Linked DNA regions of Homo sapiens. The protein of the gene in region 2 interacts with the protein of the main gene of each other region in a pairwise test. Each region holds a gene or a part of one and is shown on either strand. Other genes may lie near its edges. The genes, in order: NBPF19 and F10.

Region 1 (3,818 bases), on a different chromosome or scaffold from region 2:
GACTGTGGCTTCTCTAACCAAAGGAGCCTAGCGGGTTAACAATTGTAAAGAGCAGTTGGTGGTTCTGAAATACAATCCTCAGCCAAGGATCCCTCCTGTGTTACAGATGGATCAGCTAAAACAAGCCAACACTGAAGACACAAAGAATGAGGTTAGGTTCATTGAAACCAGGGTAACACCTTTGGATGAGCTAAACACAAAGATGACACTGACCTTGAGCAGGTATAGAAGCTCAGAGACATGCCTGCAAAATGAAATCCCTGAGGAATTTTGTAGCTACCCAAAGATACGTGGTTCAAATTAAAATGTCCGACTGATCACTCCCGGCATGTGCTGCACAGTTATGTGAACGTGTCACACCTAACGTGGGTCCATTGTCTTCAGACTGAGCACAGGTTGCCACTGGCATGGTTTGAGAATAGGAAAAGAGCCATGCCCACTGACCCATCCTATGTCTGGGCTTCCAAATGGAACTGTAGTTTCATTCAAATCTTCACGTGCCTATAGGTCCTGCCTGCAGGAATGACATCTCTCGGCTTAGTAAGGGCTGCCTATTGTGGGAATATGACTAACATCTGGAACACCAGATGGAGACTTGTCACCGTCAAAGTAAAAAACCTATTGTCCAAGTAAAGGGCGAAGCTGATATGCTCTTCCTCAAATGAGTAAAACACACTTCTGTAGTGCTGGAATGAGTCAGGTAGTTCAAAGTACATTGACGGAGTCGAATAACATCCATCCAGTGAGTCCTGTAAGACTTCAGGCTCTTCCACTTCCATCAGCACGCTGTTGAGCCTGGAAAAGGAGACAAAACTAAAGAAGCAGCCAGGGAAAATCAGACACCACAGAGCCCCACTAGATTTCAGAAGTCACATAAGGAAGTGGTTAGAAAAGAAAAAGGATAGATCCATTAATGAGGTAAAAAAAAAAATTTATTGCCTTTATGTTGGGATAGAACAGGGCCAGGTAGAAAACAATGAAAGAGAAAGACAGAGAGAGAGAGACAGAGACAGAGACAGAGAGAAAGTGACCTAGTGAATTGGCCAGGTGACATACTGGTAAGGGAGTAAAAGGACACTCTGAGTTAGTGCCCTCATGACACACAGCAAACTGTGATCATGAAAAGAGTGAGCTCAATAGTTTTCCATAAAATATGCTCAAAATTCGATGCAGTGGCCATGAGAGTACAGCTTTTGAAGTATGGTCAACCTATGGTACGCTAGTAAATGATAAGGGGAGGAAGAAATGGAAACCTAAACATCTACTGCAATGAAAACCAACAGCAATGACAGTAGGAGTAATTCAGCCTTCGTTGAAAACATGACATCAAACACACTCTGGTTTCCCTGAATCTGTTGCCTCCAGGTGTTAACACAGAATTAAGCATCCACAATTGCTGAAAGTCACCTGGGGCATGGTGGGTTTTGATCTTCTTCCCCTTCTTTTCTTCCCCTTCTTCTTTCCTTCTTTGATCTTCTTCCCCTTCTTTTCTTCCCCTTCCCCTTCTTTTCAATTTCTGCAATAAATTCAGACATGGACAGACACATTAAGCTGATTCCCCTACACACATAACAATCCACTGTCTAATCCTCACACAGGGACCTCAGGCTCCTCAGCATAAGAATAGGACACTGTGAGAGATATATTTCAGGAGGCCTGAAGGCTGGTCATGATAGAAATTCCTCGGTTTTTCTCCCAGAAACTGTGGGTAAAATGTCCCTATTCTAGTAGATCGTTATCCCAATATCATTTGTCCCAAGTTTGTGCAAACAGTTATGCCATATTTTTCCAATCAATTTAAAGCAAATACCCTCAAATGATTTCTGGGAGAAAAACTGCAATATTTAGCCCTGTCTCATCAAATACTCAGATTGTTCATGGTTGTGAGGACTTTAGACACTGAAATTAGAGTGAAAAAGGAAATCTACAAACCCTTGAGTCAAAATCATAGTTCTCTGAATTTGTCACATCTGCCCAGGTCCAATGTCATGAGAGTAGAATCAGAGTGCCACAGGTATGGCCTGAGACTAGGAAGAGAGCCATGCTCACTGACCCATCCCATGTCTGGGCTTCCAGGTAGAACTAGAGTTTCATTCAACCTACATGTGCCTATAGGTCCTCACTGCGGCAATGACATCTCTCAGCTCAGTAATGGCCACTTGGAGCAGGAATATGATCTTTATATGGAAGACTCAGTGGATGCTTATCACCTTCATAGAAAGGTACTCACCTCCCACGTCAAGAGAAAAGCCAACATGTTTTTCCTCCAATGCATAAAAGGAACTTCCATAGGGCTGGCAGGAGTCAGGCTGTTCAAGACAACTGGAAGGAGTTGAATAACATCTATCCAGTGAGTCCTGCAAGACTTCAGGCTCTACTACCTCCAGCAGCTCCCTGCTGAGCCTGGAAAAGGAGGAAAAAGTAAAGAATAAGCCAGGGGAAATCACACACAACAGAGCCCCAACTAGGTTTCATGGGTAGCATAAGGAAGTGGTTAAGAAAGTAAAAGGATAGATCCATTAATGAGGTAACAAATTATTGCCTTCATGTTGGGACAGAACAGGGCCAAATGGAAAAGAATGAAAGAGAAAGACAGATAGACACACACACACACACAGACACACACACAGAGAGAGAGAGAACGAGCTCAGTGAATTGTCCAGGTGACACACTGATGAGGGAGTAACAGGACACTCTGAGTTAGTGCCCTCAGGACACACAGCATACAGTGATCATGAAAAGACTGTGCTCAATAATTTTCCATAAAATGTGTTCAAGTTTCCATGCAGTCGCCATGAGAATACAGTTTTTGAAGTCTGGTCCACCTACAGTAGGTTAGTAAATGATAAGGGGAGGAAGAAATGGAAACCTAAATATCTACTGCAATGAAAACCAACAGCAATGTTAGTAGGAATAATTCAGGCTTGCTTGAAAAGATGTAATCGATAATGTCAGCCCGCTCTGTTTTCCCTGAACCAGGAGTCTCCAGATGTCAACACAGAAGTAGCTGTTCACAATTGCTCAGTTACCTGGGGCATGGTGGGCCTTGGTCTTCTTCCTCTTCTTGGTCCTTTTTAATTCCTGCAATACATTCAGACAGGGACAGACAAAATAAGCCAATTCACCTACACCCATAACAGTCCACTGTCTAATCCCCACACAGGGATCTCAGGCTCCTCAGCATGAGAACAGGACAATGTGAGAGATATACTTCAGGAGGCCTGAAAGCTGGTCATGATATTCTTTGGTTTGCATCTCAGAACCAAGGGTGAAATATCCCCATTCTGGAAGATCGTTATCCCAAAATCACTTATCCCAAGTTTGTGCAAACAGTTATGCCTTATTGTTCCCATCAGTTCAAAGAAAATGCCCCAGATGATTTCTAGGAGGAAAACTGCAGTATTCAGCCCTGTCTCATCAAATGCCCAGCTCGTTCATGGATGTAAGAATTTTAGACACTGAAATTAGAATGAAGGAGGAAATCTACAAACCCTTGAGTCCAAATCATAGTTCTGTGAATTTTTTACATCTGCCTGGGTCCAATGTGCTGAGAGCGGGCTCAGGTTGCCACAGGCATGGCTGGAGACTAGGAATAGAGCCTTGCTCACTGACCCATTTCATGTCTAGGCTTCCAACTGAGACTACAGTTTCATTACAACCTATATGCGCCCATAGGTCCTGCCTGCGGCAATGACATCTCTCGGGTCAGTAAGGGCCACTTGGAACAGGAATATCACCCCTATCTGGAAGACCAGGTGGAGGCTTATCACCTTCATAGTAAGGTACTCACTGTCCACGTCAAGAGCCAAGCCAAGGTA
Region 2 (3,818 bases):
CGAAATGGGATGAATGCATCTGGCCGGAGGATGCCAACAGGAGAACCCAAGTGCTGGGCGTGTGCGACTCCCTGCAAAATTCTTTCCAGTGTGCTGTGTGTTGGAAAACTTTTCCTAATGAAACATTGAAGAAAAAAAAGTTTTCAGGCAGAAGGAATGGCGCACGCAAACAACTGGAGGCACAGGAGAGCGTCTGGAATAGCACAGCTCCCAGAGAGGCCACGCCGAGATGTTAGGAAGCTTCCTTTTGTATAACGGCCAATTAGGGCACCAAGGCCAAGAGAATGGCTGAAACATGTTGGAGGAAGGCAGGGGTGTGGGGGAGCAGGAGAGGAGAGGAGGGGGGAATGGATGGCAAGGGGCTTCTCTGTGGCCACACGTGTCTGGGGTCAGATGGGCACAGCTTAGCTGTTTACTTGCTGTGCTCCTGCGCAGTCTGAGGAGGCTCCGGTGAATCTGCCAGCCGCAGGGGCCTCCACCCCGCCGTGCCTCAGCTCTGTCCATGTGTGCAGTCACCACCCTTCCAAGTTCTGAGTTCATCCATTATTTGGAACTGAACTTTTTTTTTTTTTTGAGATGGAGTTTCTCTCTTGTCTCCCAGGCTGGAGTGCAATGGCATGATCTTGGCTCATTGCAACCTCCACCTCCTGGGTTCAGGCGATTCTCCTGCCTCAGCCTCCCGAGTAGCTGGGATTACAGGCGTGCGCCACCACGCCCAGCTAAGTTTTTGTATTTTTTTTTTTATAGAGACAGGGTTTCACCATGTTGGCCAGGCTGGTCTTGAACTCCTGACCTCAGGTGATCCACCCACCTTGGCTTCCCAAAGTGCTGGGATTACAGGCGTGAGCCACCTTGCCCAGCCTGAACTTTTTGCACTACAAAGTAGATTATGTAATTTTATTTTCACACATCACATTTGCCTTTTGATTTTTTTTTTTTTTTTTTTTTTGAGACAGAGTCTCATTCTGTTGCCCAGGCTGGAGCGCAGTGGCGCAATCTCGGCTCAGTGCTCAGTGCAAGCTCCGCCTTCCAGGTTCACGCCATTCTCTTGCCTCAGCCTCCTGAGCAGCTGGGACTACAGGCGTGCACCACCATGCCCAGCTAATTTTTTTTTTTTTTTGTATTTTTACTAGAGACGGGGTTTCACTGTGTTGGCCAGGATGGTCTCGATCTCCTGACCTCATGATCCGCCCGCCTTGGCCTCCCAAAATGCTGGGATTACAGGCATGAGCTACTGCACCCGGCCCACACTTGGTTTTAAATGGATTTGTGATTGTTTCTAGAATTAAAAAATATTCGTGTGTATGTCAAGAAATGACTTCAGTTAAAATATTTTTTAACCAGCTTAAGCTTGAATGTCATTGCCAGTAGCAAGGTCAGCCACAGTGTCTTTCACTTGCTGAGATGTTTCAGGCACATAATTGAAGCAGCGCTTGAAGGATGCATATGGAACCCGGTCTTTTCGTGATCACTCATCTTTGGAAGTAAATTGTTTTCGGTAAGAAGGATATGAAAGGAAGAGTGACAGAACACTCGGGAGTAACCTGTGTCTGGAGGGGACAGTCATGGTAGCCGGGGGCAGAACACGGTCTGGGGGCTGAGCCGCACCTGAAGCCGGAAGGTGAGCTGGGTCACCAGGCTCTTGAAAAGGCGGGCCTGGAACTCTGCCCTTCGAATATGCCCCCGGGTGAGGCCAACGCTGCGGGTCGGGCCAGCTATGAGTGGGAGTGGGGTTGCTGTGCAAGGTGCAGCTGTGACGCCTAGGCCCCGCCTTCGAGGGCCTCATGTGTGCTGGCCGTGTGGAAGTGCCGGCAGCCAGGCAAGCCCAGCGTAGGCAATGCCCACGGGGTCAGGACAGGGAGGCTCGTCCCCACCCTGCCCAGTCCCCTGCCTGTCCTGTGCTCACTGCCCTCTGGCCGCCTGTTGTCCACATTCATCAAGGAAAAGAAAAACTACGTTCAATGAACACTGGTCCTGGTAAAAGGAGCTCAGAGCCTGAGCGTCCCCTGACTCCTATCCCAGCCCCGCACCTTAGCTCCAGTTCCTCGGGCCAGCTCTGCCCTTTGCCTGCCCTGGTGCTTTGAGCCCTTGCACTGGATCCCCCCACAGTCCCAATGCAGACTGAGGGCCTGCGGTGGGCCAGGCATCATGCAAAGTGCTCCAGGGATCACCCAAGCAGTCAGGCAATAGTGTTGGTCCCATTTGTCAGATGGGGAAGCTGAGGTTAAACAGCAGATCTGGCTTACAGAAATAATGGGTCTGTTTCCAAACCTCATGGTCTTCATGTTTGAACCACCTGGGCCCGGAGCCCAGGGCTCAGTCCTGTCCTCTTGGTGTCACTGTTACCTGCCAGGCCCGCCCAGAACATGCCTGTGTCCCCACCCCCTGGCACGGGCTTGTCCTCCCTGGCCCGGCCCAGCGGCAGCGGGTGGCTGTGGCCCAACGTGCCTCCTACCTGTGGGAATGCAGGCCTTGCCGTTGTCAGCCAGGGTGTACCCGCGGGCGCAGGAGCACACCACAGAGTTCTGTTCCTCGTGGCAGAACTGGTCACAGTCCCCGTTGTCCAGGCTGCAGAGCTTCCGTGTGACTGCAAAGGAGAGGCACGTTGGCTCTGGGGACAGCTGGAGAAATGGAGGCTGGGCTGGCCCAAGGGTGCCAGCTACATCCACTTGCCTGTCAGCCACAAAGCGGCCATTGGGTTGAGCAAAGGGCCAGAGCCAGGCGACAGGTACACTTGCCTTGAAGGGCAACCTCACGGGTCACGGGGAGCTCATGGTGCAGTGCCCGGTGTAGCCAGAAGCCAGGCTCCAGGTACCTGCCCCTCACACCTCCGGGATGGCCGGTACCCCCTGCCCCAGCAGCACTCACATTACGGTCACTCCACATCCCTCTGTGTGGCTTTTGATGAAAAAGTAATCACAGTGCAAAGATCAACATGCCTGAAATTTTAGAAAATGTGCATAATAGCCCTGGGAGCCTGAACAGGGTTATGCCTCATAAGTTACCAAATGGTGTTCCAGGGAGGCGACTGCGGACTTGGAATGGAATGATGCGTAATTGATATTCTCATCAGGGAAAACTCAAAAGTAATCCAATCTAAGAACACAGTCTAAAGATGATCAATTAGGCCGGCGCTGTGCCTCACGCCTGTAATCCCAGCACTTTGGGAGGTCGAAGCGGGCGGATCACCAGGTCAGGAGATCGAGACCATCCTGGCTAACACGGTGAAACCCCGTCTCCACTAAAAAATTAAAAAAAAAAAAAATTAGCCGGGACTGGTGGCCGGGGCCTATAGTCCCAGCTACTTGGGAGGCTGAGGCAGGAGAATGGCGTGAACCTGGCAGGCGGAGCTTGCGGTGAGCTGAGATCGTGCCACTGCACTCTAGCCTGGGCCACAGAGCGAGACTCCATCTCAAAAAAAAAAAAAAAAAAGATGATCAATTAAGTACTTTAAAAGAAATGCAAATCTTTTTCCTTAGGGAAATTGATCTAACAGTAGCCTAACTTTTTATTTAAAACTTAATCACCACATTAGAGAAAGCACTTAGTGATTTTTCCACGTAGAACTAATTAAATGTATCAAATTTTTATAATTGGCCAATCACAAATATTCACAAATATTGACACCTGCATCCATACACATAAATAAGAGGTGATTTAGAATCACTGCACAGGGTCACAAGGAGCAGGAATAACAGGGCAATGCACTTGGCCCCAAGGAAAACAGAGAGTCCACTCCTGTTTACACATGAATGGATCACACGCTTCATCAATGTTCTACAGTCTCTCTCGGAGGAGCAGAGAAGTGACTGTGTCTC

The links.
Region 1: the proteins of F10 (region 2) and NBPF19 interact in a two-hybrid assay, tested with the Homo sapiens proteins (one large-scale study listed by BioGRID).

Annotation. Positions count from the first base shown.
Region 1 is NC_000001.11:149,551,472-149,555,289, reverse strand, and holds part of NBPF19 (NBPF family member NBPF19), read right to left. Parts: coding exon 3,791-3,818; intron 3,082-3,790; coding exon 3,030-3,081; intron 2,404-3,029; coding exon 2,231-2,403; intron 1,517-2,230; coding exon 1,408-1,516; intron 796-1,407; coding exon 552-795; 3' UTR 1-551.
Region 2 is NC_000013.11:113,139,688-113,143,505, reverse strand, and holds part of F10 (coagulation factor X isoform 1 preproprotein), read right to left. Parts: intron 2,588-3,818; coding exon 2,456-2,587; intron 1-2,455. UniProt on the Homo sapiens protein: Factor Xa is a vitamin K-dependent glycoprotein that converts prothrombin to thrombin in the presence of factor Va, calcium and phospholipid during blood clotting.